6 separate regions of the Homo sapiens genome follow, and all the other regions are reported to be linked to region 1. The links are microRNA targets in miRTarBase. Many come from high-throughput screens and were not tested one by one. Region 1 holds a microRNA gene; each other region holds the end of a gene's coding sequence.
The links. Region 1 holds the annotated microRNA hsa-miR-128-3p (UCACAGUGAACCGGUCUCUUU, at 2,823-2,843, opposite strand). A microRNA usually pairs through its seed, bases 2 to 8, with sites in the 3' UTR of a target mRNA and lowers its output. Matches are read on the target gene's strand: a 7mer-m8 pairs with bases 2 to 8, a 7mer-A1 pairs with bases 2 to 7 and ends in A, and an 8mer does both.

Region 2: the mRNA of NBEA is a reported target of hsa-miR-128-3p. The part of its 3' UTR that is shown has no 7-base or 8-base seed match.
Region 3: the mRNA of KCTD14 is a reported target of hsa-miR-128-3p. Seed matches in the 3' UTR shown: 7mer-A1 at 3,582-3,588.
Region 4: miRTarBase lists SNAI1 as a target of hsa-miR-128-3p. Seed matches in the 3' UTR shown: 7mer-A1 at 3,973-3,979.
Region 5: the mRNA of ARHGAP5 is a reported target of hsa-miR-128-3p. Seed matches in the 3' UTR shown: 7mer-A1 at 5,263-5,269.
Region 6: miRTarBase lists KLF4 as a target of hsa-miR-128-3p. Seed matches in the 3' UTR shown: 7mer-m8 at 1,823-1,829.

What each region holds. Positions count from the first base shown.
Region 1 is chr3:35,741,997-35,747,369 of GRCh38, reverse strand. It overlaps MIR128-2 (microRNA 128-2), which reads right to left and starts at 2,894; the gene lies at 2,811-2,894. ARPP21 (cAMP regulated phosphoprotein 21) reads right to left here. Exons shown (of 21, transcript NM_001385562.1): 19 at 3,405-3,531.
Region 2 is chr13:35,669,270-35,674,642 of GRCh38, forward strand. It overlaps NBEA (neurobeachin), which reads left to right. Exons shown (of 59, transcript NM_001385012.1): 59 at 1,632-3,467. The coding sequence ends at 1,722. Among named protein-coding and RNA genes, the nearest start is that of LINC00445, 26 kb to the right of the region's middle.
Region 3 is chr11:78,012,674-78,018,046 of GRCh38, forward strand. KCTD14 (potassium channel tetramerization domain containing 14) reads right to left here. Exons shown (of 2, transcript NM_023930.4): 2 at 3,042-4,597. The coding sequence ends at 3,920. It overlaps NDUFC2-KCTD14 (NDUFC2-KCTD14 readthrough), which reads right to left. Exons shown (of 3, transcript NM_001203262.2): 3 at 3,042-4,597. Among named protein-coding and RNA genes, the nearest start is that of KCTD14, 7.9 kb to the right of the region's middle. RefSeq lists an enhancer at 3,977-4,477.
Region 4 is chr20:49,987,257-49,992,629 of GRCh38, reverse strand. It overlaps SNAI1 (snail family transcriptional repressor 1), which reads right to left. Exons shown (of 3, transcript NM_005985.4): 3 at 3,744-4,758. The coding sequence ends at 4,574. Among named protein-coding and RNA genes, the nearest start is that of SNAI1, 7.0 kb to the right of the region's middle. RefSeq lists an enhancer at 2,216-2,968.
Region 5 is chr14:32,154,310-32,159,682 of GRCh38, forward strand. It overlaps ARHGAP5 (Rho GTPase activating protein 5), which reads left to right. Exons shown (of 7, transcript NM_001030055.2): 7 at 312-5,373. The coding sequence ends at 639. Among named protein-coding and RNA genes, the nearest start is that of RNU6-7, 45 kb to the right of the region's middle.
Region 6 is chr9:107,481,543-107,486,915 of GRCh38, reverse strand. KLF4 (KLF transcription factor 4) reads left to right here. Exons shown (of 5, transcript NM_004235.6): 5 at 990-2,064. The coding sequence ends at 1,165. Among named protein-coding and RNA genes, the nearest start is that of KLF4, 5.5 kb to the left of the region's middle.

The DNA of each region.
Region 1 (5,373 bases):
TTTTTTTTTTAGATGGAGTCTTGCTCTGTTGCCCAGGCTGGATTTGGAGTGCAATGGTGCAATCTCGACTCACTGCCACCTCCACCTCCCAGGTTCAAGCGATTCTCCTGCCTCAGCCTCCCCAAGTAGCTGGGATTACAGGCACCCGCCACCATGCCCAGCTAATTTTTATATATTTTTTAGTAGAGACGGGGTTTCACCCTGTTGGTCAGGCTGGTCTCGAGCTCCTGACCTCAGGTGATCCACCTGCCTCCACCTCCCAAAGTGCTGGGATTATAGGTGTGAGCCACCACACCTGGCCCCAACATTAGTGTTCTTTATTTATAATTACCACCAACATAGGCTTCCTCTTCCACATGTTTAGGACCTTTTACCATGTGCTGATCGGATGAAGAGTACAAAATCACCAGGATAAAGAACTTATGTCTCCCTACTGTGCCACAGGGGAACTCAGGTGTCCTATTTAATCAACAGTATAGTGTCCAGTTCACTTTACAAAAATTCACTGTGTAGAGTTTTAAGTCTTAGGAAAGATGTAGTAACTGACAGAGATTTCAATTCTGGCAAGAATGTAGGAGAAGGAAGAGAGGCTTTTTACTGCAATTAAATAAAGATTAAGAACAGCGCCAAGAAGCAAATTCAGATTAAAATCTCATTTGACTTTAACTGACATAATTCTGTCTCACTCTAATTTTAACCACGTGATAGCTGAGGATGTTATGACATAATCTGGTGTCATTATCAGATGAAGATGGAAAAGGGTCAGATCCCAAGACACACAGCTGCAGGAGGCAGGAGGAAGAACAAGTTAAAACATGACTGTGGGAGGGTGACATGCTGATAGTAGCCCATAGTTTGACTTAAAGATGGAGAAGTCTTATTTTCTAGTTCTTCCAGAAAATATAACTTATACAGTTATCTGAAGAGGCTCTTTCCTCTATGAGATAGTCCATCCACATAGAGTTGCTCTCACAAATGACTGCCATGACCATTTGGAAAGTTTCTGTTAGTCTCCCTAGGCTCAACAAAAGGACGCCCAGCTGTAGGACCCAGAGCCTCTGTGCACTCTCAAAGAGCCACTGTGTGGTCTGGTTACTTGGATTTTATTAGCAGAAGTGATTCTCTGTAAGGTCAGGGAACACCATCTGCTTTCCCAAATACTAGGTACATTCATCACTGTGGTGGAAACTGTGTTGGGATTTTAGGCCAGGTATCCAGTGTGGTGGTCACAAAAACTAAGAGCCCAAAGGTCTCAGTGTGCATGTGTATACTAATGCCATCATTTCTGGGGACAATACTGTTTATGATCATTTCACTTTTCTCACTTCCTCACCCTGTACAGGCCACATTAACTGGCACTCACTTCCTTGACACCCTAGGCACTGCCTTGCTTCTATATTTAGCTTGATGCTGCTCTAGAGTGCACTCTTCTCATTACAGTGTCATTATCTTACCTTGGGAGGGTCATTTTTGCGGTGATGTGGGAGAATGTGACAAACCAAAGCTACCAGGTTGCCATGGAATGTAGGTGGAGCCAGTGAGGTCTCTAACTGAATGGGAGAGGGTGTTTCCACATCCCTAAATTCTCCCATTGTGCTTTATTAAAGAGTAAAAAATGCCTCATATATTGTCTCTTGTTTTGACATCCACTAACAAAGTTAGTGAAGAGGAGAAAAAGCAATGGAGAAGTCAGTGGGGGAGGCCTAAACTTTTTTGAAATCTAATTCTGTTGCCCAGTTATCATATTCATCTAACTTTCTCATCCCCTCACATAGATCTAGAGTTTATGGGTTTAGTGGATTGCAGCATGTTTTGTAACTGCGTTTCTTTGTATGATGACACTCTACCACAAGACTGAAATAATCTCTTTAAAAATTGCCACACAATGGCACCAAACCTAATAAAAATCATTATAATTAGATATCTGCATCTTTTTTCTTCTAAAGGCATTAGTAACCAAGTAGAAAACTTGCACATAGCCTCTAAACCAAGATCCTCAAGATTGTAAATTAACCCTTTAATTAACGTTAGCATAAAATAAGATAGTCCAGAATGCAAGCAACACATTTCTACAGCATGTATCTAAACTGATAGCACCGTTACCACCAAAATGATAAAGGTAATAACGTTTTCCACAAATTAGAGAAAATATTGCCAAGTGATTTTTTAAAAATAAATAGTTATTTGAAACCCTTTAGTGTTCTCAAAACACTGTAAAAGTCTAAAGTCAATTCAGAGGTCAAATATATTCTTCCCCAAACTAATACAGTGCTGAAACAAGACAAAATCTGGCTGGAAGATATAGGTTTCTCTAATTCTTCTCCCACAGACTTTAAATAGGCCATGAGATAAACCAAAGAACATGTAACCATCCACAATACGGGGGAATTTAATTCTTTCTCCAATCTGACAGGATGCTAGCAGTGTCAGCATTGGTATTCTTAGGATGTCTGTGATTGGTGCTAATCCTTGGCAAGAACTGCACTTTTCTCATAGGTTATAAAAATGGTACATATTGTGTATATATTACATACATGTATCTGTATACATTCCATATGCATAACATAGATTCAGTGCAGAAATCAGATCACGGAGCAGGCATCTATGAGTAGCAGCAAGGAGCACGTGCTCTTTACATGACCTACTTACAGAAGGCAGAGTCTCCCCGTCAGGCAGTCTTCAGCATGACAATTAGCAGTTTTTCCTGCAGTTTGGTCAGCAGGAATGACACAAACCTCTCCCTAGCACAAGCCACTCAGCCCTGTCGGGTTCGTGCTGCTCTTTGGATAACGGCATTCCATTAGGAGTGTGACACAGTAGGGAAAGAGACCGGTTCACTGTGAGACCTGCTACTCACTCTCGTACAGTGTATCGGCCCCCCTTCCCACTGCACAGTGGCTGCCGGGCTCTGGGCAGGAGGCATGTGGCCATCATGAAAGTGAACCATGGAGTCAGAGTTCCACCGAGACACGCTGGATTGTCAATAGCCTTCTTCTAAAGGCAGTATCTTTTAGCACGATATTGAAACAACCTAATTTGGTTCCCTAGCCTTAAGAACAGAGGAAGCACTCTCTTCAAATTGAAAAGAAAAAAAAAATTAAAAGAAGGTATGAACTAGAAAGGTACGGACATGGTTGACTTTCTGCTTTAACAGAAGAAGGATCAAAAAATAATTTATGGAGACTGTTTAACATGCATGCCAGGGATGCTAGTCTGACATATGCTTCACCTTCTTGTACCTACTACTTTTCCACACAGAGTCAATCAAATGCTTTGTTATCTTCTCTGGGTAGAGAAAATGTGCTGGTTTAAATTGCCAAGCTTGGACACTCATCCAAAGAGTACAAGATTCACCAGCAAAAATAACTGGGTTGAGAAGCAAATGGGAAACAGATTCCAAGTACCTGCTTGCTGTGCTGCCTGTGGCATCTGTTGACTCCTCTGAGCGTTGTACTGAACCGGGGCCATGGGCCGGTACTGTTGCGTGGTTGAGGTAGGGTACTGACCAGATGGGTAATAATATACAGGCATCTGTGGAAGAAAGGAGGAAGAAAGCAGAGAATGAAAATGTAGATAATGTAAATTTTTAAACTTAAAATATGCTTTCGTCTTATAATTGTGGTAGGTTGTGAAGATGGCCACCGCAAACTTCTCCCATGCCTATGTGTATGTGCATGCTACTTCTCCCGTAAAGAGGCAAAATCCATTTCCCAAACTTAAATCTGAGCTGGTTCTGTGACTTTCTTTTACCAACGCCATGAGGCAGAAATGATGTCTGAGTCTTTCAAGTCTGATCCTAAAGAAGACTTGCAGCTTCCACGTCTGTAGGCGGGGAACCCAGCCAAGAGATAAAGAAGTCTAGACTATTCTGCTGCAGAAAAAGGCCATGTGGGGAACACAGGTACCCCCAATTGACTGGTTACCCTCCAGTTCCAGGCATGTAAGTGTAGCCCTAGTCAAGCCACCCCAGCCATATGGAGCAGAGATGAGCCATCTGTGATAAATCCTGCTCAATTGCTGACCTAGTCGTGATCATACAATGGTTGTTTTAAAACAAGACTTTTGTGTTTTTTAGATGAAACAAGAGAGAGTGAAACAGTTATCATCAACAACGAAAACCTACATTTTAAATATTATATCTAACTTGAATTGCTTTTCTAATGGAAACAGGGGTGAAACATGAAAACTGCTGATCTGTAGCCTAAAAGGAGCAGAGAATGCAATCATGAAATATGGTAGTCTATCAAAGCACATTGCAGAATGATTGGTACACACCACTATTCAAAAAAGTATGTTCAATCTAAAAGGGAAAATATGATAAAAATGTTGTTTATGCTACCTTCTTAACTTTCTTATGACTGAGAATGAATAAAATTATTCTGATTATTTGATTATGATCCAAATCAAATGTTTCCTGATCTGATAGACTTCTTTGCCTGCCTCAGTTCATTTATATTAAGGTCACTTTCTTACTGATCTTAGTTAATTATTTTCTATCTCTGGGCTTCTGAGTTTTCGCCTATCATATTCTCTAAAATAACAACTGAAGTACCCTAGTAGACCGCCTACAAACATTATATACATAGGATAAAATTACAAGTCAATTATTTGAGAACTGTGATTTTCATGGTTATTTTGTTTTCTGATTTGCTCAGGTCTAATAGGAAACACTTTTCTATTTCAATATTGCTGTTGAAACATATGTAACATATTTTGCTGCCTGAGGATAAAGTGGGAACAAAATATAACTTAATCTGTGTGAACCTGTAGCTCTGCAATTTCATGGAATCATGATGAATTATAACTGTGGCTACATAACATATGGATATTCAAGGGCAAGAGGCTGAATGAGTCTAAAGCAATCTTGGGTCAGTATCTGGCAACTAAGTCATTGTATACCTTGCTTATAGTGATTCGCTCTTACTACTTCTCTCTTTTTTGTCAGGCAGTTTATAACAATAAAAAACAAATAATTCTGGAGTAATAATAGCATTTAGCTATGCTCTGGCAAACTTTGGTGGTATTAAAGATGACTACCATTATGCATCAGATGCCTCCCAATATTAAAAATAGGAACAACTTTCATCTAATTTATTTGTCAGCATTTATATTTACATGTCTTTTAGGAAATAGCGTTTTGTTCCTTTAGAAAAGACTGTCTTGCTTAAATGTAAGCTCATGAATGTGATATCTATTCCTTGATCTCCCTTCTTATGTTCAATATAAAACATAAAATATCCTCAGGGATGAAGGAATTTATACTTAAAAATGTTCTGATGAGGACTAATGGTTACAATAAAAGTACAGCTGCATGGAAAAAAATTTTGAACTCAATTTTTGTTGTTGTTTGTTTTGTTTTTTTTCTTTTCCCCA
Region 2 (5,373 bases), not on the chromosome of region 1:
CAACCCTGTAATCTGAATATGGCATGTGATTTCTAATTTTTGCTATTTAACAGAAATAAGAAAAGCTTGTTAATCAACGTTTTTCCCAACTACATGTAATATTCCTCATAACAGTATTGGTTTTAAAATATTTTAAATATTAAGACATAATAAAGTTAACAAAGCATCTTCACAATATAATAAAATGGCACTGAAGTCATCAGGAAAAACGCTGTAAGCTAATTTAGTCTGGGAAAGGATGTTTGGTCTGCAGCCCAGACTGTTTTTAAAGAAGGTTTAAGGTTATTATTGGAGTATCCCAAAGTGCTGCAGCCCATACTTAGGAATAAATGGGAATGGTTTGTTGTGTTACTATTTGTATATATGTGTGTTTCCAGAGTGTTTGAAATGATTTGTGTTTGTAAGCAGTTTCAATATTTCCCTGATATTCTTACTCGTTCGTGTATTCATTTTGCTGCCATCATCATAGGTTGAGTGCAGTGCAAAGTACTAAGGATCCACAACAAGAAACTGACCCCAGAGAGCTCAGATCCTCATAATCATTGCATATGAGGGCACCAGGAACAGACTAACAGAAGAAGGAAGGGATGAACTCTTCTTGAGGGCTGGGAAGGGCAGGAAAGACCTTAGAAGAGGCTCATCCATTCACCAGGCATGAACAGACAGGGTGGATGGAAGAGCATATTCAAAGTTGCAGTAGTATTAGGGGGTCTCAATGGAGGGGGGAAAGATACTAAGTTTCTATTTCTATTTTAACCTCATCCTTGGTTTTGATTATTTTGTTGTTTTATAATGAATAGTGCATGCATATCAATTATAAACTGATAAACATATATTGGGGATATTACTCAAAAGGTATTTATTGGATGAGGTGTCTAATCAAAAGTGAAGCAACACTTTATGTAGACAGAAATCCTGAAACCTGAGTTCAGTCAGTGGCAGTGGGACTGGGGAGGAATATCCCTGAAAAAGAAGCCTCAGAGCTGAACAGCTGATCAGTTAGGAGGGAGAGGGAGAGGAGACAAGGTGACTTAACCAGCAAAAGACCAGCAAGGTCAGAAGGTACCAGTGATTCATGGTGGACATGTTGAATCTGAGGGTTTTGTGACACAGCCTGGCAGTGACCTCCACTTGGCAATGGGAAATCAGCATCTGGGGCTTCAGAATGAGACGTCGTTGCCTTTACGTCCAGGGAGACTGTGGACCGAGAGGACAAGAGGTGGAGTGATTCAAGGGGGCAAAGAAAAGAAAGGTCACAGAGATAGGAAGAGATGCCAGATATCCTCAGAGAAGCCAATAGATGCCCAAAACAAGGCAGCGGACAGGCACGTGTGTGATTGCTGAGAGAAATGGGGCACCCAGCGGAGGCTGGAAATGTGGTTCCGTGGGCCCCTCACGCTCTGCAGCAGGGCTGGCTGTCCAGGTGTGTGCGGGCTAACTGTGCTCCTCTCAGCAGAACCAAGAAGAAATTTCAGTCCTACTTCCATGAATACAAAATTAAGACTTGGCAAACCTTGAGATCGTGATATTGTCTAGTGTAAAATGCCAAACTTTGAGATACTGTCTAGTGTAAAATAGCAACCACAGAAATGATTTTATATCACTCTTAACTGCTGTTTCTGCTTTTCCAGGACTCTGATCACTGGCATGGCTTCTGGTAGCATTGTAGCTTTTAATATAGATTTTAATCGGTGGCATTATGAGCATCAGAACAGATACTGAAGATAAAGGAAGAACCAAAAGCCAAGTTAAAGCTGAGAGCACAAGTGCTGCATGGAAAGGCAATATCTCTGGTGGAAAAAACTCGTCTACATCGACCTCCGTTTGTACATTCCATCACACCCAGCAATAGCTGTACATTGTAGTCAGCAACCATTTTACTTTGTGTGTTTTTTCACGACTGAACACCAGCTGCTATCAAGCAAGCTTATATCATGTAAATTATATGAATTAGGAGATGTTTTGGTAATTATTTCATATATTGTTGTTTATTGAGAAAAGGTTGTAGGATGTGTCACAAGAGACTTTTGACAATTCTGAGGAACCTTGTGTCCAGTTGTTACAAAGTTTAAGCTTTGAACCTAACCTGCATCCCATTTCCAGCCTCTTTTCAAGCTGAGAAAAAAAAAAAAAAACACGTTTGATACTTTGTACATCAGATGCATCTTATTTAAAAGGGATACTTTTGTAAAAGTAAAACCTTGTATAAAGAACAAAATGTTTCTTAATTTTATTGTGGAGTTACAACTTGCATGTTCCTTACTCCTGTTGGCTTGATGGAACAGGTGCATTCACACTATGAAACAGAAAGATCTGTCCAAGGACACAGCTTGTATGAAAGGGTTGAATTTGGGCTCCATCAGTAATTTTTGACATTTTCACCAAAATATAGTTTGCACTTTTTAATCTAAAGTCATCCCTTCTGAGTGAAATTTGCTCATAAAGCATTTGGATACTAAGCCATTATTTGCCATTTTGGGTACTTTATACAAAGAAAATTCAGCCCTACCCTGCATAATTTGAAGACACAGCAGAAAGGGGGCTTAGGGATGAGGTCCTGGTTTTTCTTGTATAAATAGGAGTCATGGGCGTTAGTTCTGTAGTAATAACTTCCCAGCACCTGGACATCTCTTCCAGAGTTATCCCACTGGCTTGGTGTGTATACATTAGGGGAGGATAATCTGATGCTAACTTTTTTTTTCTCTTTGGTTCTTGAATAGCTTAGTTTCTTTAATAACAAGTCAAACTTTATTACAACAATAACTGAAGTTATTCTTTTAGGTTCTCGTGAAATTCTCACTGAAAGCCACATTCTTAGCCTAAGGCATTTCATCTTTTATGATATAAAATGATGGCTATCAAATGATTTTCCATACATTGTACTGATCAAGTTATACACCCAGGGGTATATACACTTTCTTCATGTTTCTTCTTTGTATATTTGGTGACTGTATCGTCATAGATGTACATATTGTGTCGGTAGGGCTATGAGGCATGTTACAGGAATGTAATTTTCTCAGAATTTACACTCACTCGCAGTCATTTATTTAAAAAGATAAAACAAGATAATGGGTTCTTTGTATTGGCACTTTGCACCAGAAACATATCATTATTTATTGATGTGATTACTTATTTGTTATCCACCTTGTACTAGTAAGTTTTAGCACTGAATTCCTTCTTCACTGTTGTTTGTATTTATGAAATTCTGAAATTATGGGGAATCAGCGTAATGATTAAGTTATTCATCACCAGGCTGTAAGCAATATCTTGAGTTTGTAGCTTAGAATTGGGAGGATACTTAACATCTGGAAGACAAGTTCATTTCATCTTGAGATCATGGTGAAATATTTTGGATATATAAATTCCTTAAGCTATTGTAACCATGTTTTATTGCAAAGATGTAAAATATGCCAGATGTGTGTGAGTTGGAAATCAAAAAAAGAAAAATAAAATATGCAAAGAATTCACCGACTGTTTCAGATTTCATTGGACATGTCACTAGCATGCTTTCATTGTGTTGTCATACAGGTTTCCGAAGTCATCATCATCTGATGTAGAGCCTACAGCATCTAAAAACATGAAATCGAGTCCTAATGAGGTTCTGCAATTTGCTGAAACCTGAGCTGCTCTGCCGAGCCATCTGGCAGGGATCTGGGGCAACAGCGACCATGGGGAAACGGCCCTCATTGTCTATTCTGCATAATCCACTTTGGGGATTGTCTTTATTTTATTTAAAAGGAACTAAGTAGTGAAGGTTATAATAACTCCTTTTTTGAGTGTTATCACATAATGCCTTTTTCATTTGAAACCACACCTTCTAGAACCCATCAGTGACCAGGCATGGCACAGGCAGGGACCGAGGACCTGGAGAGGCTGAGCAGCTGCTAGCAAGGGCAGCCACGAGTGGGCTGAGGGGGATTCGGTCACACAGATTGGCATGGGTGGTAGCAAGGGCAGCCACGAGTGGGCTGAGGGGGATTCGGTCACACAGATTGGCATGGGTGGTTGGGGCAGCGGCCCAGACAGGCCCAGAGAATGACAGAACTGCAGGCCGTGCTTCCATCCGCATTCCCGAGACTAAAGGGACAGACCCAACAGTAGCCTAAGGAAGGTTTGCGCTCTTACTTTCCATCCTATCCCCAAACCAGAAATCTGTCAGTCATCTGCCCTGCTGGCTCCCTCACCCAGCCCTCCTGCCAGGCACTCCAGCCAACTGACTGATCACTACCTAAAGTGTCTTTTGAAACTGCCCCTGCCCTTTCCAGCACTGTCATCTGGACTGTCCGAAAACCTCCTGACCTCTGACCTGTCCCCTCCCATCCATGCTCCGCCCTGCTGCGAAGGCACCCATCCAGTCATCTCCCTCCCTGCCGCCCCGCGCCCCCCTAGTGCCCCCCAGCGCCCCCCAGAACCCCCCAGCACTTTGAAAAACCAATACCAATGGCTTAAAATGGTATTCTTAAACTCTGGTGGGTTGAAAATCACCTGGGGAGCTTATTTTTAAAAGCAGGATCTAGAGTCCCACCGCTCCCCCCTCCCACCCCAAGCACTTCTTGGGCACATTTTCAACAACACTGATTGGAGGGATAAATTCTAAGCTCAGTGAAGCGAAGTCCTTCAGGAACCACCCCCAGCAGCCAGCACCCCTAGTAAACCAGCCTTTTTCCAAGTTCCTGAGAACTCTCTTGCACCTGAGTCCCTAAGGCTCCTCCTGCCAGGCGGCCCCTCTCTGCCTGCACCACTCGCCTACTGCCTTGTCGCAGATTGACCTAAACCAATTTGGTCATGCACAGTCTTTTTTGGCAGGTAAAGGTAGCCCCCAAAACACCACATCTTCACTATTTCATGATGAAAACAACTTTTAGAAACAGTTTCTGCTATGTGTGGGGATACCTTTTTTTTTTTTTTTAATTGAGACAGAGTATCACTCTGTTGCCCAGGCTGGAGAGCAGTGGCGGAATAATCTCGGCTCACTGCAACCGCCGCCTCCTGGGTTCAAGCAACTCTTCCAGCTCAGCCTCCCAAGTAGCTGGGATTACAGGCACGCATCACCATGCCCAGCTAATTTTTTTTGTTCTTAGTAGAGATGGGTTTCGCCATGTTGGCCAGGCTGGTCTTGAACTTCTGACCTCAAGTGATCTGCCCACCTCAGCCTCCCAAAGTGCTGGGACTACAGGCGTGAGCCACTGCGCCCGGCCGGTATACTTTTAAATGAAACACATTTTAGCAAGCAGGCAAAAGAGTGCCTGCAACTCTTCTGTGAGTTTGGTGAAGTCCAGAGCTTGGCTTTTTTACGTGATCTCAAAATCATTTTACATTTCCAAAGGTACACTTGAAGCAGATGCACTAATATTCTAGAAGTAGCATCCCATG
Region 3 (5,373 bases), not on the chromosome of region 1:
TCTTAGGAGATGTAAACTGAAGTATTTAGGTGGAGGGATGTTAATATCTGCAACTTACCTTCAAATTGTTCAGCGAACGATTATAAATGTATATATGCATGTGTATAGAGAAAGATCGCATAAATGTGTCAAAATAGTAATAACTGGAGGAGCTAGGTACAAAGTTCAATGTGGGCCAGATGCAGTGGCTCATGCCTGTAATCCCAGGATTTTGAGATGCCAAGGTGGGCAGCTCACCTAAGGTCAGGAGTTCAAGACCAGACTGGCCTACATGGTGAAACCCCATCTTTACTAAAAATTTAAAAATTAGCTCGGCGTGGTGGCACACGCTTCTAGTTCCACCTATCCGGGAGGCCAAGGCAGGAGAATCACTTCAACCCAAGAGGCGGAGGTTGCAGTGAGCCGAGATGGTGCCACTGCACTCCAGCCTGGGCAACACAGTGAGAACCTGTCTCAAAAAAGAAAAAAATTAAATATACTACTCTTTTACCTTTTCTGTGTATATGAAAACTTTCCAAATAAAAAGTTTGGGAAAAGTTATTTGGGGAATTAACATATGAACACCTGTACTCATAAGCAGATGAAATATCCCTCTTGGAGTACCATCTGAGATTTTTTTTTTTTTGAAACAAAGTCTCACTCTGTTGCCCAGGCTGGAGTGCAGTGGGATGATCTCAGCTCACTGTAACCTCCATCTCCTGGGTTCAAGTGATTATCCTGCCTCAGCCTCCAAAGTAGCTGGGATTACAGGCATGTACCACCACACCTGGCTAATTTTTTTGTATTTTCAGTAGAGTATTTTAGTAGAAAATTTAGTTTCACCATGTTGGCCAGGTGGGTCTTGAACTCCTGACCTCAAGTGATCCACCTGCCTCGGCCTCCCAAAGTGCTGGGATTACAGGCGTTAGCCACTGCACCCTTCCCCATCTGAGTTTATTAAAACTCATGTAATCACGTATATCTGCACCAGGGCAAGACTAAAGTGAGGTCAGCGAGAAGCCTAGTCCTGGCCCTGATACACACCATAGATTAGAACAAGTTGGTAATTAGAATGGGGTCCATACCAATGAAGAGGAGTGGTCACCCCTGGTTTGGGTCGACCAGTGAACTGCTATTGGCCTGAAGTTAATGAGACTCTACAGCAGTTGTCAGCCTTAACTGCACAATGAAGTCATCTGAAGGAGCTTTAAAAAATATTCTTTCCTGGGCCCCACCTCTAGAGATTCTGATTTGTTTCAGGTGTTGCCTGGGTATGCCCTACATTGGAGGGTTTTAACTTATCCCAGGTGATTCTAATTAATGTGCAGCCAAAGTTGAGAACCATTGCTCTTCATACTGCCTTATACAACCTGGACAACTATAAAGGGATTGGTAAGGTTCTCAGGGAGAACAGGTGTGTGGTTTTACCAGAGTTGGAAGAGACTTTTTTATTATCATTTGAGACTCAGAGAGATTCTAGCAATAGGAGGAGCCAGAAAGTTCTTTTATTTTTTTAATTTTAAAATTTAAAAATAGAGACAGAGTCTCACTATGTTGCTCAGGCTGGTCTTGAACTCCTGGGCTCAAGCAATCCTCCTGCCTCACCCTCCCAAAGTGCTAGGATTACAGGTGTGAGCCACCATGCCTGGCCTAGAAAGTTCTCATACCATGGAGACTAGACCTTTTTTCTCAAGGGCAAGGGACAATATATTTAAAATACTTGGGCATAGGAGCAACCCCACAGGCCCAAACCCGGAGCTCTCAAAGGGATGGGATGAATTACTGTTGTCAGTTGTAAGTATTAGAGACAGCTGCTCAGCCTTTTGAAGAAATGGCAAGGAACAGAAAACTGAAAGTATCCTCAAGGAGTCAGATTCTAACCCAAAAGAAAAGTTTCTGGACATTGGTTGAAATATACATGACACTGCAGGAGGGGAAGGTATCACAAAGTGAAAAATTCAGTGGTTTGTGAAAGGTCTGGCTAGACACAGTGGTTATCCCATTAGGAGGCAAAGCCAGGTTCTTATAGGTACACATGGTCTCTCTTGAGTAGGAGGTCACTTCCAGATCTGTCACCACAGAAGAGGTGTCCCAAAGGGAAAAGAAATAAAGCGAGAGAGGATTGGGTAGGCAGTACTCATTCTAGCTTGCCTGGGACTTCCAAGTTGGTTTTATTTATTTATTTATTTATTTTTTGAGACAGGGTCTCCCTGTGTCACTTAGGCTGGAGTGCAGTGGCGAGATCTTGGCTCACTGCAACCTTTGCCTCCCAGATTCAAGCGATTCTCATGCCTCAGCCTCCAAGTAGCTGGGACTACAGGCATGTGCCACCACACCTGGCTAACTATTTTTTTATTTTTAGTAGAGACAGTGATATGGTTTGGCTGTCTCCCCACCCAGATCTCATCTTGAATTCCCACATGTTGTGGGAGGGACCTTGTGGGAGGTAATTGAATCATGGGGGCAGGTCTTTCCCGTGTTGTTCTCGTGATAGTGAATAAGTCTCATGAGATCTGATGGTTTTAAAAAGGGGAGTTTCCCTGCACTTGCTCTCTCTTGTCTGTTGTCATGTGAGATATGCCTTTCACCTTCCACCATGATTGTGAGGCTTCCCCAGCCACGTGGAACTGTAAGTCCATTAAAACTCTCTCTTTTGTAAATTGCCCAGTCTCAGGCATGTCTTTATCAGCAGCGTGAAAACAGACTAATACAGATGGGGTTTCACCATGTTGGCCAGGCTGGTCTTGAACCCCTGACCTCAAGTTCTCTGCCTGCCTCAGCCTCCCAAAGTGCTGTGATTACAGGCGTGAGCCACTGCACCCGATGAGACTTCCAAGTTTTCATACTGGAAGTCCTGTATCCCAAGAAACCCTTTGGTCCCAAGAAAGAAACCCTATGTCCCAAGAAGGTCCCAGACAACCCACATAGCTGATCAAGCTACTATGCAGGGAAGGGGGTCATATAATTCAGACCTGGACTTGGAGAAGAATGAATGTCTACATGTATCCTCCTTTAGAGGACAAGTCCTGTATTAGGGTGAGAAGCAGAACCAAAACTGAGACTCTCGTGCAAGTGGTTTATTGATGGAGTGCTCTTAGGAGAAGGGGAGTGAGGGAAGCAGCGTAGGACAGAGGAAAAAAACTGAGTAAGAATGTGCTCTCAGAAGAAGACTGACTTCAGCTTGATTCCATGAGGAGCTCTGGGAAAGGAAGTTCCTTGATGTAAGAGGTCAGTCTTTTGTACCTCCATACAAGAGGTAGCAATTCTTTTCTAGAGATGGTCTCAAAATTAGAATACATCAAAATCACTTGGAGGGTTTGGTAAATCAGAATGCTGTGCCAACCCCCAGAGATTCTGATTCAGTAGGTCTGAGGTGGGGCCTGAGGATTTGTATTTCCAGCAAGTTCACAGGTAATGCTGATGATGCACTTTGAAAACCTCCACTCTAGAGAAGAGGACAGCTCTGAGGTGTTAGCACCCACAGCATCTCGCAAAGGGGATCAGGAAAGCACCTACTACATGAAGGCACATGCCAGGGACAGATGGATTGGACCCCAAGCTGGGGCTATGTAGACTACATCTTTAGGTCAGAACATCTAGATTCACAGTATCTTGTATGTTCCTGTTGTCATCTCACATCTCTTGCCAACGCATTGTTGAAACATTCTTACTTGGTCTTGTTATTGGACTTCAAGAGAAGGGTCTGGGAGATACATGAGGCTTTGAAAAGGAAGTAGCTGCAAGTTGCTAGGCAAATATAGTGGCATCAGTTGCAATGGAGTGGAAAGTCCTTAAACGAGTGATCAATATTTAGTGGCAAGACTCTAGACCAACCCTGGAAATTGCCTGATGTTTGTGAAATTAAAAGAAAATGGCTTTGATGGCAACTTTTAATTTCATAAGCCACGCCAGAATTCATAACAGTCTCTGCTCCTGAGGATCACCACCAGGTGAAGGTGAATGAATAAATGTTAAAATGGAATTCGTTTCTTTTGGTGGGGTACGTCAGGTAGAACTTGGAGAATACCTTGTACCCCTGGGCCTTAATGTCCATCTCCAGGCAGTGCATGAGGTCGCTGTTGTCTAGGACCGCCTTCCAGGGCCCAAACTTGACAACAGACTTGAACATCTTCTTATCCTGCAGAAAACACAGGACCTCTGAATAATATGCATCCTGCTCCTCAGTTTCCACCAGGCACACAAGCACGCTGGACTTCCGTGCTGTTATGGCTTCTGCACGTGCCAGGCGCACCATGAGCTCCAGGTTCTCGCTGTAGCCCGGCACTTGCAGCAAAAACTGCTTCCGAGACACCTGCTCACCAAAGATCTGTGGCATGTCCTCCAGCAGCTTGACCAAAGGCTTGATTTCGTAGAACTGAGCCTCACGGTACACTTCAGGGATGTGCTGTGTGGGCACTTGCCCAGTGCGCAGGTAGTCCAGGATGGGTCTGAAATAGGTGCTGGGGCGGTCGATGAAGAAGCGGCCCTCCGCGTCCGTGGAGGCCTTGGCTAAGCTAGAGAACATCTCTGCCAGCTTTGAGCCCGGAAACTTCCTCAGGGTACCCAGGGTGGTGGTGTGGAACTCACCCCCGACGTTCAGCTCCACAACAGTAGACATCTGGGGGCACAAGAGGCAGAGTAAACCAACACGCCATCTCCCCTGAGCGCATTACTTATTTTTATCCAAAGGATAACTGGATAAAAAACTTAGGGGAGCCATAATGATTGGCTTCAGCTAGTGAAAGGCCCATCTTACTAAAGAGGGTTATATTTATGCTGTGTTGCTCCAGGGGGTGGGCTTTTTTTTTTTTTTTCGACGGAGTCTCGCTCTGTCACCCAGGCTAGGGTGCAGTGGTGCAATCTCGGCTCACTGCAACTTCCACCTCGATTAAAGCAACTCTCCTGCCTCAGCCTCCCTAATCGCTGGGACTGCAGGCGCCTGCCATCATGCCCAACTAATTTTTGTATTTTTAGTAAAGACGAGGTTTCGCCATGTTTGCTAGTCTGGTCTCAAACTCCTGACCTCACGTGATCCGCCTGCCTCAGCCTCCCACAGTGCCCGGCCGAGGGTGGGCATTTTAAAGAGGAAGAAAGATTTCTGTTTGAAAAAAGAATACCCATTCAAGCATCTTAATTTTAGGTCATAGAATGTTATGGGAGGAGGCCAGGCACGGTGGCTCACGCCTGTAATCCCAGCACTTTGGGAGGATGAGGCAGGCAGATCACCTGAGGTCAGGAGTTCAAGACAAGCCTGGCCAACTTGGCAAAACCCTGTTTCTACTAAAAATACAAAAATTAGCCAGGTGTGATGGCACGCGCCTGTAATCCCAGCTACTCAGGAGGCTGAGGCACAAGAATCACCTGAACCTAGGAGGTGGAGGCTGCAGTGAGCCA
Region 4 (5,373 bases), not on the chromosome of region 1:
TCCTTATCCTTAGGACACATAGCTTAAATATTTAGCAGTAAAGGGGCACTGTGTCTATAACTTACTCTCATATGGTTCAGGCCGGGCGCCGTGGCTCACACCTGTAATCCCGGCACTTTGGGAGGCTGAGGCGGGCAGATCACTTGAGGCCATAAGTTCGAGACCAGCCTGGCCAATATGGTGAAACCCCGTCTCTACTAAAAATACAAAAATTAGCCGAGCATGGTGGCACATGCCTGTAATTCCAGCCACTGGGGAGGCTGAGGCACAAGAATCGCTTCAACCCAGGAGGCAGATGTCGCAGTGAGCCGAGATCACGCCATTGCATCCCAGCCTGGGTGACACAGCGAGACTCCATCTGAAAAAAAAAAAAAATTCAAATGGTTCAGAACTAAATAATGTGTGTGTATGTCTAGGAAGAGAGGGAAGATGTATCCATGATAAAACGTTAACGTATTGAAGAATCTGAATGTACGATTCCAGTTTACTGTTTCTTGCAATTTCTGTCAGGCTGCAATTATTTCAAAGTAAAACGTCTTAAAAATCTTTAAAAAATGGCTCCCTTCTTCCCTCCCTCCAGTCCTTGTCCACCCCAATCCCACCTCCTGCAACCCACCAGGGAACCACTTTTGTTAGTATATTGTCCTAACCTCCAGAGTCTCCGTATGCAAATACAAACAAGAATGAATCACGTGTTGATGATTTTCATCCCTCTTCTGCCCACAGAAGGGAGCACATCTGCCGGTGATTTCTTTTTCACTTAGTGCTTTGGGGTTTGCTCAGGATCAGAATATAGAGGCTTTCCCCATTCTTTTCTCAGCTTCATAGTATCTACCCCCACTAGATCCAACATCCCCTTGGTGGTGTGCTCCACCAAGCCCGGACTTTTTTTTTTTTTTTTTTTTTTTTTTTTTTGAGACAGAGTGTCACTCTGTAGCCCAGGCTGGAGTGCAGTGGCACGACCTCGGCTTACTGCAACCTCTGCCTCCCAAGTTCAAGGGATTCTCGTGCTCAGCCTCTCAAGTAGCTGGGATTACAGGCATATGACACCACACCCAGCTAATTTTTGTATTTTTAGTAGAGACGGGGTTTCACCATGTTGGCCAGGCTGGTCTCGAACTCCTGGCCTCAAGTGATCTGCCCCACCTTGGCCTCCCAAAGTGCTGGGATTACAGGCGTGAGCCACCTCGCCCGGCCAATTTTTAAATTTTTTTGTAGAGACAATGTCTCGATGTGTTGTCCAGGCTGGCCTTGGACTCCTGGGCTCCAGCAACCCTCACACTTCAGCCTCTAAATAGCTAGGACTACACAGATGTGAACCACCATGCCCAGTTCCCCAGATAATAATACTAAATAACTGTCACCCACTAGGGCTCAGGTGTGCTGGGCCATGGGCTGGGTGGCCACAACTGCCACAAGTTTCTTAAATACAGGCTTCATCTCCAAGGCCACCAACACCCTGAGCCAGGCCACCATCCTCCCTCCTTTCCTTCCCTCCCTCCCCTCTGGCCCTTTTTTGTTTGTTTGTTTGTTTGAGACAAGGTCTCGTTCTGTGACCCAGGCTGGAGTGCAGTGGCGAGATCTCAGCTCCCGACCTCAAGCGATTCTCCTGCCTCAGCTTCCCAAGTAGCTGGGACTACAGGCATATGCCCCACCATGCCCGGGTAATTTTTTATTTTAGTAGAGACGGGGTTTTGCCATGTTAGCCAGGCTGGTGTCGAACTCCTAGCCTCAGGTGATCTGCCTGTCTAAGCCTCCCAAATTGCTGGGATTACAGGCATGAGCCAGGGTGCCTGGCCCCCTCTGGCTTTCTCATGGTCTCCCTGCCTTTGTCTTTCTCCTCCTGGACCCCTGAGATCCATTCTCCCAAGCAGCCAGGGAGATCTTTGTAGGAAAGGTAACAGCAGGCCTCAGCACTCTCCTGCTTTACAGCCCCAGTGGCTGCCCTAGGGGCTTAGACAAAATTCCCACCTGCTTAGCACCACAAGCTCTGCAGAGCTGGGCCCACTCTCCTCTCCCACCCTGTCTTCCCAGTCCCTCCGCCATCCTGGTCTTTCTCATGGGGGCAGCACATTCCAGCAGGCTTGCTATTCCCTCCCCCAGATCCTTCCCTGCCGGCATCTTTCTCCTCCTTCAGGTCCGGGCTGGAATTCAGCTCTTCCAGGGCTCTCACTGCCTTGGCCTGGGGAGCCCCACCCCGTTGTTCTCTAGTGCCTGGCACCCTTTCATTCTGTCCTGGCACCATCACTGTAGAAAAGCGGCTTGTTTATTTAATCACTTGTTTGCTTTCTCTCTCCCCGACCAGAACATACGTCCCATGAACGCAGGGATGGCCTGTCTTGTTCACGGGTGTAACCCCAGGGCCTGGCACATATGGTACCCTCGAAACCCCTGAATGAATGAATGCCTCTGTACAGTCTCCGAGAGGAAGGCACTACTGTCACCCTGTTTTATAGACACAGAAACTGGGGCCCCCAGAGGGAGAGAGCCTTGCTCCAGGTGCCCTGAGAGTCAGCGGCATGAGCCCAGCCTACCGAACTCCCAGGATGACCTGAGGGGCCGGGCTTGGTGACCTCAGGCAAGCCCACCTCTGTGCCTCATTTTCCGGAGGCCCGACCCCCAGGGATTATGTGAAGTCATGAAATCATTCATTCAGCACCTACTGTGGGTGGATGGAGACGACCTAGAGGGACCCGCAGGGACCCAGGACACAGTAGGCCTTCAGCTCATGGATGCCCAACCCCCATCCCCCCAACTCCCTAACTTCCCTTCAGGGAGGCAGGCCACAATTTGGCGATTGTTAGAGAACGTTTTTTTTTTTCCTTTTGGGAGGAAAGCTGCAAGTCATTAAGGGCTGCTCCCGGCCTGCGGGTCACCATTTCCTGTTTAGAAGAAAGAATCATCTCTCCTTTGGAACATGAAGCTCCCCCCACCCCCAGCCTGACTCTGGGGCTCCGAAGCTCTGGGACGCCTCAGCTCCTCACAGGAAACTGGCACCTCCAGCACCTTTTGTGTTCAAAAAGGACACTCATTTTCTCCTGGCCCCAAGAGGCCCCCAGTGGTGAGGTCACCACCATCGGCTGGCGGGGAATGAATTACCCTAGCCCAAGACGCATGCTGACCGTCCCGCCGTCCTCGGAGCAGGAAGCTGAGTGACCCCTACCCTTTGGCCTGGCTTCTCACCCTACTGGCTCCAGCCAGCCAATTTCCTCGCATCAAAGGCCATTTGGTACCCAGCAGCAAGACGGAGGTGTGGGACTGACAAGGAGGCCCAAGGGGGCCTGGAGCCCTTGGAAACAGGAAGGACATCCTCTGTCTCCTTGGTCGCATTCCACTCGCATCTGGGGGAAGCGGACAATCCCACCCCAAAAGACCTGCAGTGCTGGGGCAGAGCTTTGCAGCCTGTCTAGTTGATAAGACCCAGGAAGCCAGCTTTGCACTCCGTGGGCCAGATCAACTTCAAAATTCAAGAACGAGAAAGTAAAAAGCCACAGTGTATAGTGAAGAGCTCGTATGGATGCCGCTGGCTCACCCAAACAGCAGCAGACAGGACACCCAGGCCAACGGGAAAACCCAGTCTCATAAGGTCCCTGACAGTGACACCCAGGACTCCAAAGCCCTATGATGTTTCCAAGGACAAGATTTAAGGCTGTGTCAGAAATATCTAAGCTTCAGGAATTCCTGTCCCCTCCTCCCTTACCAAAGACCTTTCAAAATACCCACTCCTCTATGACACCAAAGACTTTTTAATATATAAATTAACTGCTTTATTGAATATCAATAAACTGTACATATAACTATACAAAACGTTTCCTTGATACAAAATGTTTGAAATATAAATACCAGTGTACCTTTAAAAATGTAAACATCTTCCTCCCAGGCCCACCTGTCGGGCCCCCAGAATAGTTCTGGGAGACACATCGGTCAGACCAGAGCACCCCACTTGGGCCCCCGACAAGTGACAGCCATTACTCACAGTCCCTTTTCAGACATTGTTAAATTGCCCGGGAAACAGGTGCCACCCCACCAAACAGGAGGCTGAAATAGCTGCCTGGGCTCGGGGCATCTCAGACTCTAGTCTGCCACCGCCTCCGCAGGCCCTGGGGCTGCACCTGGGGGTGGATTATTGCATAGTTAGTCACACCTCGTGGAGGGTGGCCTGAGGGTTCCTTGTGGGGGGGTGTGTGTGAGGGGAGTGGGGTCCCCTGAGTGGGGTGGGAGCTTCCCAGTGAGTCTGTCAGCCTTTGTCCTGTAGCTCAAAGCAGCTGTATCCAAACAGCTCTGGATACAAAAACCCACGCAGACAGGCCAGCTCAGGAATCCCCCAGGGCTGGGGGCCAGCTGCCCTCCCTCCACAGAAATGGCCATGGGAAGGCCTCTTCCAGAGCCCAGGCAGAGGACACAGAACCAGAAAATGGTCTTCATCAAAGTCCTGTGGGGCTGATGTGGCCAGAAGTGGGGCACTCAGGAGGGAATTCCATGGCAGTGAGAAGGATGTGGGGTCCTTCCTGCTGGAGCTGGGGAAGGCTGTCAGGCAGGGGCAGGTATGGAGAGGAAGAGGGAGCCTCGAGGGTCAGCGGGGACATCCTGAGCAGCCGGACTCTTGGTGCTTGTGGAGCAGGGACATTCGGGAGAAGGTCCGAGCACACGCCTGGCACTGGTACTTCTTGACATCTGAGTGGGTCTGGAGGTGGGCCCGCAGGTTGGAGCGGTCAGCGAAGGCACGGCTGCAGTGGGGACAGGAGAAGGGCTTCTCGCCTGGGGAGAGAACGCCAGAAAGGCCGAGTGAGCCGTGGGACAACGGCTGGCAGTGATGGGAATCCCTCCCCGCATACCCCAAACCCTGAAAGAATCCCATGATCCCAGGAAAGCCAGGCCTCCGTCAAACACACAGCCAGGGTCCAAAGGCCGGGACCTGACGGAGCTCTGCTGCTTCCCACTGTGCAACTCTGAGCAAGTTGTCTGGCTTCTCTGAGCCTCCATTTTCCCACCTGTAAAATGGGGCTATTCACCCCCCACTCATAGGGGTTGATAAGTGACAGAAGGTAGGGTACTCATCCACATCCCGCAGGGACGTGCGAAGTGGTCAACAATGACTCAACACCTTTACTGATTCATCCTACTGTCACTTGATCCTACTGTGGTCTCATTTCAGAGACAGTGAAACTGAGGCCCAGAAGTAGCATGTTCAGGTTCCCCTGGCAGGACCCCAAAGCCTCTGATTTCACCTACTGCCCTTACTGCCTTCAGTCAAGGGAGGACGTGACTGGTGTCCTTACCATCAGTCCTGGAGTCATTCCTTGATTTACTCTGTTGGGGGCCAAAGCCAGAGTCAGCCTTAAGAGGCTTCCCCACCCCCACCTCCAAGCTGGT
Region 5 (5,373 bases), not on the chromosome of region 1:
TGGCTAATTTTGTATTTTTAGTAGAGATGGGGTTTCTCCATGTTGGTCCTGCTGGTGTCGAACTCCCAACCTCAGGTGATCCGCCTGCCTCAGCCTCCCAAAGTGCTGCGATTACAGGCGTGAGCCACTGCACCTGGCCCAGGAAAAGTTTTTTACATACGAATTAAAGATGCTTCTTTATGCAAATTTTTAAACCCCAGGTTTGAAGTAGGATAAAAGGTAACATTAAATCTGAGATCATTTCTAGCTCTGGAATTCTGTGATTGTAATGAGTTTTGATTTCTAAATGTTTTTTCCTTTCATAATTTCAGGGTTAGTCAGCAACATAAAATCAACCTAATGACAGCAGACAACTTATCCATCTGTTTTTGGCCAACCTTGATGAGACCTGATTTTGAAAATCGAGAGTTTCTGTCTACTACTAAGATTCATCAATCTGTTGTTGAAACATTCATTCAGCAGTGTCAGTTTTTCTTTTACAATGGAGAAATTGTAGAAACGACAAACATTGTGGCTCCTCCACCACCTTCAAACCCAGGACAGTTGGTGGAACCAATGGTGCCACTTCAGTTGCCGCCACCATTGCAACCTCAGCTGATACAACCACAATTACAAACGGATCCTCTTGGTATTATATGAGTAGGAAGTGATTGCAAACAGGCTGGATTTGGACAAAAAGCAAATCTAGACATGCATGTTTCAGGGTTCAGTAGTATACTTCATGTTTCATACAGATAATTCACATTCAAAATTACATTTTCTCTTTGAACTAGATGGTATTCCTTATTCACTTACATTACAAATCTAAGACCATGTGATAAGCATGACTGGAGAGGTTTAATTTTTATAAACAAAAATAGCTATAAAGTACAAAGCTGCTGCTGCATGCAACCTTATTGCAATCAGTATATCATTCCTGTGGCAATTTCTGTCACCTTATATTGTGAATAAAATTTTTCTATAGAAATTAAATGATTTAAAAACTCACCTATATGAAACATTTAATGCTTTTCAGCCTGCTTTCTGGCTGATTTTGTTATTTGATGTGCTAATTTGGGCAACTTAATTTACATTCTGGCAGTCGGTGTAGATAACTAAAAGCCCAGTTAAGTATTTTATAATTTCAGGCTACTGAGGCCATGCTTGGGATGTTGTTTGAAAGAAAGAAAAAATACACTTGACATATTTCACATTTCTGTACCTTCATCTTTACTTCCAAGTAAACCCGTGGATGATTTGATGAGGGATAAATGAACCTATTTCTTTTACACACATACCAAGGACATGCTTGTGGCTAAAGTGAGTTGATAATGTTGTGCAAAGGATAGTTGTCACCAACTCATTTCTTTATGGTCCATAATGAAATAAAAATTTTGTATACTGTTAATTCTGTAAACAGATGCATGTTCAAAAGATCTATGATGGTCTTGTAATCTTAATCTAATATATTTTAGATATTTTAATTTTTTCCCTCTTGGGGAACACATTTAGTATAGTGTAGAAAATACTTCCATGACATTTTCATATAAGGTTATATAACTTTTCATACATAAACATGAAATTTGTTGTAGAAAATTCTTTAAACCAAACATTTAAATCTAGGACTTCAATTTAATTTGTTCCTTGAATCTATTTTTATGTGGCCCTTAAAAAATATCCAAAAAACCCATTGCTAATATAGCAATAAAAATACTTTGGGTACTGACAGACTCTTTGGAGTGTTTATATTACAAATTTGTATTCATATTCTTTTCTGTGATGTGTTGTACTAAAATCCAAAATGGCTTTTGCACCATTTTTAAGCCAATTTTTTCCTTTGATGTTGGTACCAGAATTACTATAAGTGACTGCTGCTTTTGGGGGTAAACATTTTGTTAGTGAAGATAAAACCAGAACACTAAATTATGGATAAAATTTTCAGAATAGGTGGCACAGGTAAATTTCACTAGGTTATATTTTGTGTAGTAAAGAAAAAAATTATTTGGTCAATGTTATCTTAATTCATACTACAATTTAAGATTATCTTATGTGTATTATAGTAAATAGATGATTTTCAGATTCAAGGCTCCTAAGAGTTTGATTTGCTCTGTTTTTTCCTAAAATAAATATTGTCTCTCCCAACTGTTAAGTTCTAGGTATTGTACTTCCAATTTTAACTTCAGAACCAAGATGTTGGCATGAACCAGGCTGCTGTTGAAGTACATGTATATTATAAATTATCTTATTTGTGTTATACTCTTACATGTTATCTTTTCTAAGAAAACAAAGTCCCTATTATTCCTATTGCAAAGCACACAGGAATTAAGAAAGTACAGTAATTTTTAAAAAAAAATCCGGTAAATGTAGTATTCTTAACCTGTTCTATATTACTTATACCTATTGTCTATATAGCTTTAATTTATAGTTGTCAGTTTAACTATTGGCATGTCTGGCAAAGAAAATTAAACTTTAAGAGTTTTATAAACTGTTTCTAGGTTGCTAAAGAATTTATTTTTCTACTATATATGGTATAGACAAAGCATCAAACTATGTACAGGAAAAAAGCCTGACTATTTCTATTTGGAAGTAGGCTGAAAAGAGAATTTTCAAAACTGTTCGTGTCTTCAGTTCATTCTGTCATAACTTTGCTATTGTAATATGTGAATACCAGTTTATTTAAGCTGTTCTCTTTTATACTGTATTAATTTAATGTTCATCTGCGTTTAGTACCATTTTTGTTATTAAAACTGGCATTTACCGTTTTTCACATTAACCCACCTTGCACCTTCCCCCAAACTTATCTCCACTTTTCTATGCATTCTATCATTGATTTGACACACTTCATAGTGAGTCATTTAAATACTCTACGTTTGGTTCAATTAACCAGTAGGTTACAGTTATTGAAAATTAAAGTACAGTTTAAAGCTCAGTCTGTTACACTGAATTGATTGTGTTTGTTTTTGCCAAGGGTTTAGATATGCTTTTAAATATTAGAAACATCTAAGAACAGAATAACATAATTAAACTTTTTTCTGGTAAGTTACTGGAAGGTTTCACTGTTTAGGGACCTATCATATGAGACTTCTTAAAGGATTAAAAGAATAGGATAGTCTCATAATTGTGAGTAAACATCAAGGCATTATATTTTACAATACTGAATAAAATTTCATCTACACACATGTTGCCATTGTTTCATTTAAGGTTCAGTGCTTATAGTTAACTACAATATTGGACCTAACAGGATCTAGATTAGCAATATAAAGAAGCATAGTGGTACTCTGTTTCACACTTTCAGTAGATTTATTAGAAGTCAAATTCTATTCAACAGACACTTATTAGGATATACAACTAATTTAAGAATAAAATTCCAGGCACAATATATTTTTTTTAAATGGTATTTGTTAGTAGTGCTTCTTCCCCTTAACATTTACAGTGTAAATACTGCAGGTAACCGCAATCTAAGTTAGCCAAAAAGCAGCTTTTTTTCCCATACTGTATGTAAATAATGTAGACCTGGGTTTTTTTGTTTATTTGGGTTTGTTTTTTTTTTTGAGGTACTGGAATCTAATTAATATCTCTTAGGTATCAACAAAAGGGAACAATTGGAATGAGAATTTAGGCCTTAGCTTCCATGGTGATTTTTAGTTTTTTATACAGTAATAATTGTGATGCTATTTGTCAACTGGATATAAATACACATATAATTTTAAAAAGTCAAAAGTGCTTTTGTTTCTTTGTTTAATGTAATTTTTGTGCTTCACCTACAGGATGCTGCAGTAAATTAAATATCAGTGAAGCTTCTGATGTATAAAGAATGCTATGAATAAAACATTAAGAAGCTGTGTAATTTTAAGTTATAGTTGCCTCTATTTTTACCATTTCATTGGTAAAAATTAGCTAATTTTTTTCAAGTGAAATGAAAAATAAAAATATAAATTTATCAATATGATGGAAATCTTATTAAGGAGATGTATTATTGAATTTTCACTGTACCTGAAAAGGAGATTCAAAATTTTTTCTGGGGATGTATATAGGTGAAAATTTGATTTTTTAAATTATCAGGAAAACAAGATAATGCACAGATTTCTAAGACTAAGATCTTACCTGGATGTGATTTTTGAGCTGTGGCTAGACATTCTTTAGAGCCACTGGAAATATTTTGAAAACTATTCTAGTTATAGCAGAGCTGCTAATATTAACGAATATATTTGTGTCTTCATGGTTTGTGACTATTAGGCCAAATTTTGTGGTATATGTTGTCAGTCTGGATCTGGTGAGGTCTGTTCAACATGAATCTTTGTGTTATCTTGAATTTAGTAGTTTCAAGGTACTTAAATTCTTAACAGTTTCTAATTTGTTTCAATACATATGGGACATGGTTGATTTTTTTACTGTATTAGAACTCTTGGAAGTTCTTAGCCTTTTCAGGTTATGAAATACCTGAAAGTAAAATTTTCTAAGATTTAATAAGGGAAGATACTATTCAAATCATTTTCTTAGGATAGCATCTTTACATACAATGAGAGGATTGTACAAGCATTAATCTCATATTCCAACATCCAGTTACTTGATGTGATCCAAGTACCCTGGTCTTTTTGAAGCAGTTAAAATCTAATTAATTAACTTTGGGAGTCTTCACTATTCAATTGATCCTCATCATTGTCCTATTTGCATGACTCCATTTTTTCCTCCACTATATGAGTTTTCTTTGTCAGGGGGAGAGGAGTGGGAAGAGTCACAGAATCTCATATTCACATCTTAATTAAATTGTGTGAAATTAGTCTTTTGTGGAAATTCTGTAGGCAGTATGATTTTGAAAAGCTAACCAATGATAATTAGCATTTTAGTTAATACTAAATGCATAAAATTATAACCCTTGAAATTAATTTGGTGCTGGCAGTTCTGGTTTAGTCATTTTTACCAGTAGTTAGTAGTATTAAGACCTGCAGTATATGCACTTTTTGAGTAGCTGTCAAATAATTGTAGTTGAGAAACAACTTGTTTATTCTCACAATTCAGATTTTCTATTCAGTTTTGTCTCAAATAGTAAGTTATTGTGAACAATTTAATAACGGCCCTCCTGTTCTAGTTTGCCTAATATTTTAGTTAAGATTTAGTGTTTTAACCTATTTTTTTAAGTTTATTTTTTGTATTAGATTTTATTTGAATAAGTTATGTGGGTTTAGTAATTGACCTATTTATTCATTGCTTCACTAATTCATCCAGATTAGTTTTAAGTGTGTATATGTATTTGCTCACCAGATCATTTTCTTGGGACCTTGAACTGTGAATGTTTTGTCCTAACCATTTAATATTTTCTAGGTACTTGCTGCAAGTTCTTGAACTATTTTACCAGCTTTAACTTTGGGGCTCTTAGTTTCTTTTCTCCAGATT
Region 6 (5,373 bases), not on the chromosome of region 1:
CTACCAGTGGACACTCCTCAGTGCCTCCTTGGCTTCCCAGGGCAGTCTATCGCCTTGATCTCCGGGATCACTGGAGAGAACAGCAAACCGGCGCCTACTTTTCTGCCCAGGAGCCTTTTGCTTGATGGATGGTATCTGTGTTTGAATGTGCAATTTTGTTAGGCTTTTAAAAGGCAGGAGATTCCCCGCGGTCTGTGGGCCTCTCCTAGCTTGGCATTATAATCAAGAAATTATACTTTGCTATGCAAAAGCATGATGGCTTTTTTAAAAAAATCGTTTTTTAATGTTCCCTTCCCAGGTTCACCCTCCCTTTTTGTTATTTTGAATTCTGGTCGTAACAATTCGGTCTTACTTTTTTATTTTTTATTTTTTGTTCGTTTTGATTTACATTTTTATTTTTTTTCCCCCACAAGCAGAAGGTTTTATTTTAAATTCCAAGAATATGATGGTCAAAATTGCTGGGAAGATTCTGATTTAGGGTTGTCACTGCAGAGCATTTCCATGTCAATGTAAGTAGGTACCCAAAGTCGTTTAGGTGCAGCATTCAGTAACGTAAAGGTAAAGAAAAAAAAAGTAGCCACCTGTGGCTTTTTATCCCCAGTCGTAGTAGGAATAAGATTGCATGGTTTGGGCACACTACCAATCACAATTTCCAAATTTCATTTCCACCACTGAGATGCCTTGACTCAAATGAAACATTAGTATAGGTTTAGGTGGTGTTTGTGTGTTTTTGGTGAAACATTAGTATAGGTGTAGGTGGTGGTTGTGTGCTTAACTGACCCCCTAAAAACAAGACCAAATACTTAAGCACGGAATGTATTTCTGTTTATGATATGGAATTCAATACACCCCTTCAGTGGTATAAAGACATTCCTGGATTTCTTTAGGATAGGGTCAGAGTTGGTTTACTATCTGGCCTTCAGTTTTTAAAAGGGGCGATTCTTTGATATAGCAATAGCGTCAATTTTTTTTTTCTTTTACCTTTACAGGTGAGAAACCTTACCACTGTGACTGGGACGGCTGTGGATGGAAATTCGCCCGCTCAGATGAACTGACCAGGCACTACCGTAAACACACGGGGCACCGCCCGTTCCAGTGCCAAAAATGCGACCGAGCATTTTCCAGGTCGGACCACCTCGCCTTACACATGAAGAGGCATTTTTAAATCCCAGACAGTGGATATGACCCACACTGCCAGAAGAGAATTCAGTATTTTTTACTTTTCACACTGTCTTCCCGATGAGGGAAGGAGCCCAGCCAGAAAGCACTACAATCATGGTCAAGTTCCCAACTGAGTCATCTTGTGAGTGGATAATCAGGAAAAATGAGGAATCCAAAAGACAAAAATCAAAGAACAGATGGGGTCTGTGACTGGATCTTCTATCATTCCAATTCTAAATCCGACTTGAATATTCCTGGACTTACAAAATGCCAAGGGGGTGACTGGAAGTTGTGGATATCAGGGTATAAATTATATCCGTGAGTTGGGGGAGGGAAGACCAGAATTCCCTTGAATTGTGTATTGATGCAATATAAGCATAAAAGATCACCTTGTATTCTCTTTACCTTCTAAAAGCCATTATTATGATGTTAGAAGAAGAGGAAGAAATTCAGGTACAGAAAACATGTTTAAATAGCCTAAATGATGGTGCTTGGTGAGTCTTGGTTCTAAAGGTACCAAACAAGGAAGCCAAAGTTTTCAAACTGCTGCATACTTTGACAAGGAAAATCTATATTTGTCTTCCGATCAACATTTATGACCTAAGTCAGGTAATATACCTGGTTTACTTCTTTAGCATTTTTATGCAGACAGTCTGTTATGCACTGTGGTTTCAGATGTGCAATAATTTGTACAATGGTTTATTCCCAAGTATGCCTTAAGCAGAACAAATGTGTTTTTCTATATAGTTCCTTGCCTTAATAAATATGTAATATAAATTTAAGCAAACGTCTATTTTGTATATTTGTAAACTACAAAGTAAAATGAACATTTTGTGGAGTTTGTATTTTGCATACTCAAGGTGAGAATTAAGTTTTAAATAAACCTATAATATTTTATCTGAATAATGTTTTTTATTGTTTTGTTTTCCTCCTGGAAAAATATGAACAGTGTTTGGTTTAAACACACCGGGTTAATAAGGCATGTAAGAAGCACGCACAAAAAAGCCAACTTTATGTCAACAAATTAAAATACCTTTTTTTATTAAAAAAAAACTATTTAGTTTTACCATAAATACTATCAATATAGGGCTGAGAACTCTTGATTATTGTACGTTTAAAAATTACAAGATTAAAAACCCAGTTCAGGTTTGCTCTTTCCAAATGTACGTAAAGCTACGTGAAAGCAGTTTCCTTACCTATGATTTTCCCAGTAGAAACAGCTTAATCATCCTTAAATTTGCTCAGTTTAGTATGAAAATATTTATGAAATATATACATTTCAGTTTCATATTTGAAAAAAATCTTTATGGTTTGTCTTTTAAAGTAAATAAAAATAAAAAAGTTTTCTGTGGAGGCCTGTCCCAGCACCCCTCACATCTGAGTAACAAAAGAACCTTCCTACAGCAGACAACCCTAAGAACGTAGTTCCACAGTGCCCTCCTGAGGATTAAAGGGTTCATTTATGCTTGGTGTGTGTTAAAGATACATCACTTCTACTAGTTACAGCCTTAAAGAGGTCAGAACCAAAGTTTCTGGCAGATTGTTTTAAAGCTAAATCAGTTCCCCTGACTGAAGGTGGGAAAACAAACTGAAATAAAATAATTTAAAAATTATTCAAATTCATAAAACTAAGTGTAAAGTAAGATGGTGTTATGGTAAGTTTGTAGCGTTTATATTAGAAGTTTTAATATTAAAACTCAAAACTGCCCTGTTAGAATCTGAAGTTCTTGAGATGGGTGCCTGAAAGATTGAAATTCATTTGGGGCTATCGCAAAATGGAAAAAGCATTTGTGACACTTGTTGACACCTTATATACTTGTAATAGTGATGTGGGTGACTAAACATCATCAAGGGGACAGAGCTCACTGCTCACTGGCATTTTTTTTAGAGTGCTTATTAACTATTGATTGTATCTAGTGTCCAGAGGTGCGTTTGTACCATGGGTACATGTAATAAATGAAATAAAAAATGGATGTTTATAAGAGGCTTATGGTAGATCAGCACAAGGTATTTTCTTTGGCTTTTGAGAGTCCACCATGACTGGAAAGCATAGCATGTGTCTCTGCTTAAAAGAAAACAGGTGCATCAATAGGATGGAATTTTATGTGGCCAAGAACATATTCAAAGCATATTTAATGACATGGAAAAATGCTCATAGTAATGTTAAGTGGAAAAAGCAGGATATAAGACTATCAACAGTACCAATTCAACTGTGTACATTTAAGTGTATGTGTGCTTTGAAGGAGAGAGAGAGAAACAAAAGGAAATTAAGAGAAAACCCTAGAAGGAACTGCCAAAATATTCATACTGGTTTTCTCAGTTTTAATTTTCTTTTCTTTTTTTTTGAGATGGATTCTTGCTTGTCACCAAGGCTGGAGTGCAGTGGTGTGATCTCGGCTCACTGCAATCTCCACTTCACAGGTTCAAACGATTCTCCTGCCTCAGCCTCCTGAGTAGCTGGGATTACAGGCGCCCACCACCACACCCGACGAATTTTTGTATATTCAGTAGAGACAGGGTCTCACCATGTTGGCCAGGCTGGTTTCGAACTGCTGACCTCAAGTGATCCGTCCACCTAGGCCTCCCAAAGTGCTGGGATTACAGGCATAAGCCACCGTGCCCAGCCTAAATTTTCTTTTTTGAAGTTTTCAAATATTCTAAAACAGCTATAGTAAGTTTGAAAAACTTTTTCATAAGAATGAAGATATAAAGAACAATTAAAATTATTTAAACAAAAAGCCCTCATTAGAACACATTATTCTGTAAATTATGTTTAGATTTCTTTAAGTTTAAATTTCTTAAATTTCTGTTAAATTGTGGTTGGTTGCTTTTGTAATCCACCTCTGTTATACAGAATCTTTTGGCACACGGTGTATGAAAATGACTGAAAAATGCCATCTTTATATTTGCTAAGTGCATATTATCTCGAATAGAAGAAACATGCATAAACTATCAAGAATTTTAAATTTATTTAAAATTTTCTGATGTCATAGATTAACATTCCTCTACGTTAACTTTTTCTTTATTCTTAATTTTTATTTAATTCTTTTTCTTCAGCTTTTAAGTTCAGGGTACATGTGCAGGATGTGAAGGTTTGTTACATAGGCAAACATGTGCCATGGTGGTTTGTTGCACCTAGATATTAAACCCAGCATCCATTAGCTATTCTAACTGATGCTCCCTCTCCCCAACCCCTATTTTTTTAATTTTTAATTTAATTTTAAAAAATTTTATAGAGGCAGGGTCTCACTATGTCGCCCAGGTTTGGTCTCGAACTCCTGAGCTCAAGCAATCCTCCTGCCTCGGCCTCCCAAAGTGCTGGGATTACAGGCATGAGCCATAGCACCCAGCCTACATTAACTTTTTCTAGCCTGAAAAAGAAAGCTTCAATATCTAAAATGAATGAGGAAGATTTCCCAAAACTGTGACCAAACAAAATACTATTCGACATACGCCAATAGCTAAATTATTTACTCTGGGACCTATCAGCTGTGGGCTCCTAGGTGTGCTGTCATTATGGTGTTACAGAGCCGTTTATACACTATACAATAAAGAGTACCTAATAATTGTGATGCCTGCTTATTATATTTTCCTTATGACACTTAATTTTACTGTTTCTTATTTTAACTTGTGTGCCTACACACACAAAGGATTAACAATGATGTTTCCTACACACATCAACAGACTTTCAGTCCACCTATTTTCCAGCAAAATGTCTCTTCTGATAAAATTCTTTCTGCCTGAAAACGTATTTGACTCTTGCTATCCTGTTTCAGTTTGTAAAACAAAACAGATGCTTTCACTATCTCAAGTAGGATGGTCATGAGGAATATTTCTTTTTCTTCCAAAAATTGTTCCAGGCCGGGTGTGGTGGCTCACACCTGTAATCCCAACACTTTGTGAGGTTGAGGTGGGAGGACTGCTTGAGGCCAAGAGTTTGAGAGCAGCCTGGGAAACATAGCAAGACCTCATCTCTATCAAAAAAAAAAAAATCAATGAAAAAGTGTTACAATTTTTAGAAACATGAAATGCTCTTCACAGTTGGAGATTGATAATTTTTACATATAATTTATTTCCATATAAGGAAGCCCAGGGGAGGTAGTCTTTATGCTACAGAAGCAAGTCCACAGAGAAAATATTAAAACAAGCAGTGGTGGTACCTGTTGTACTTCAACAAATGGGAGTATCTAAATTTAGCAGCCTGTATCAGCC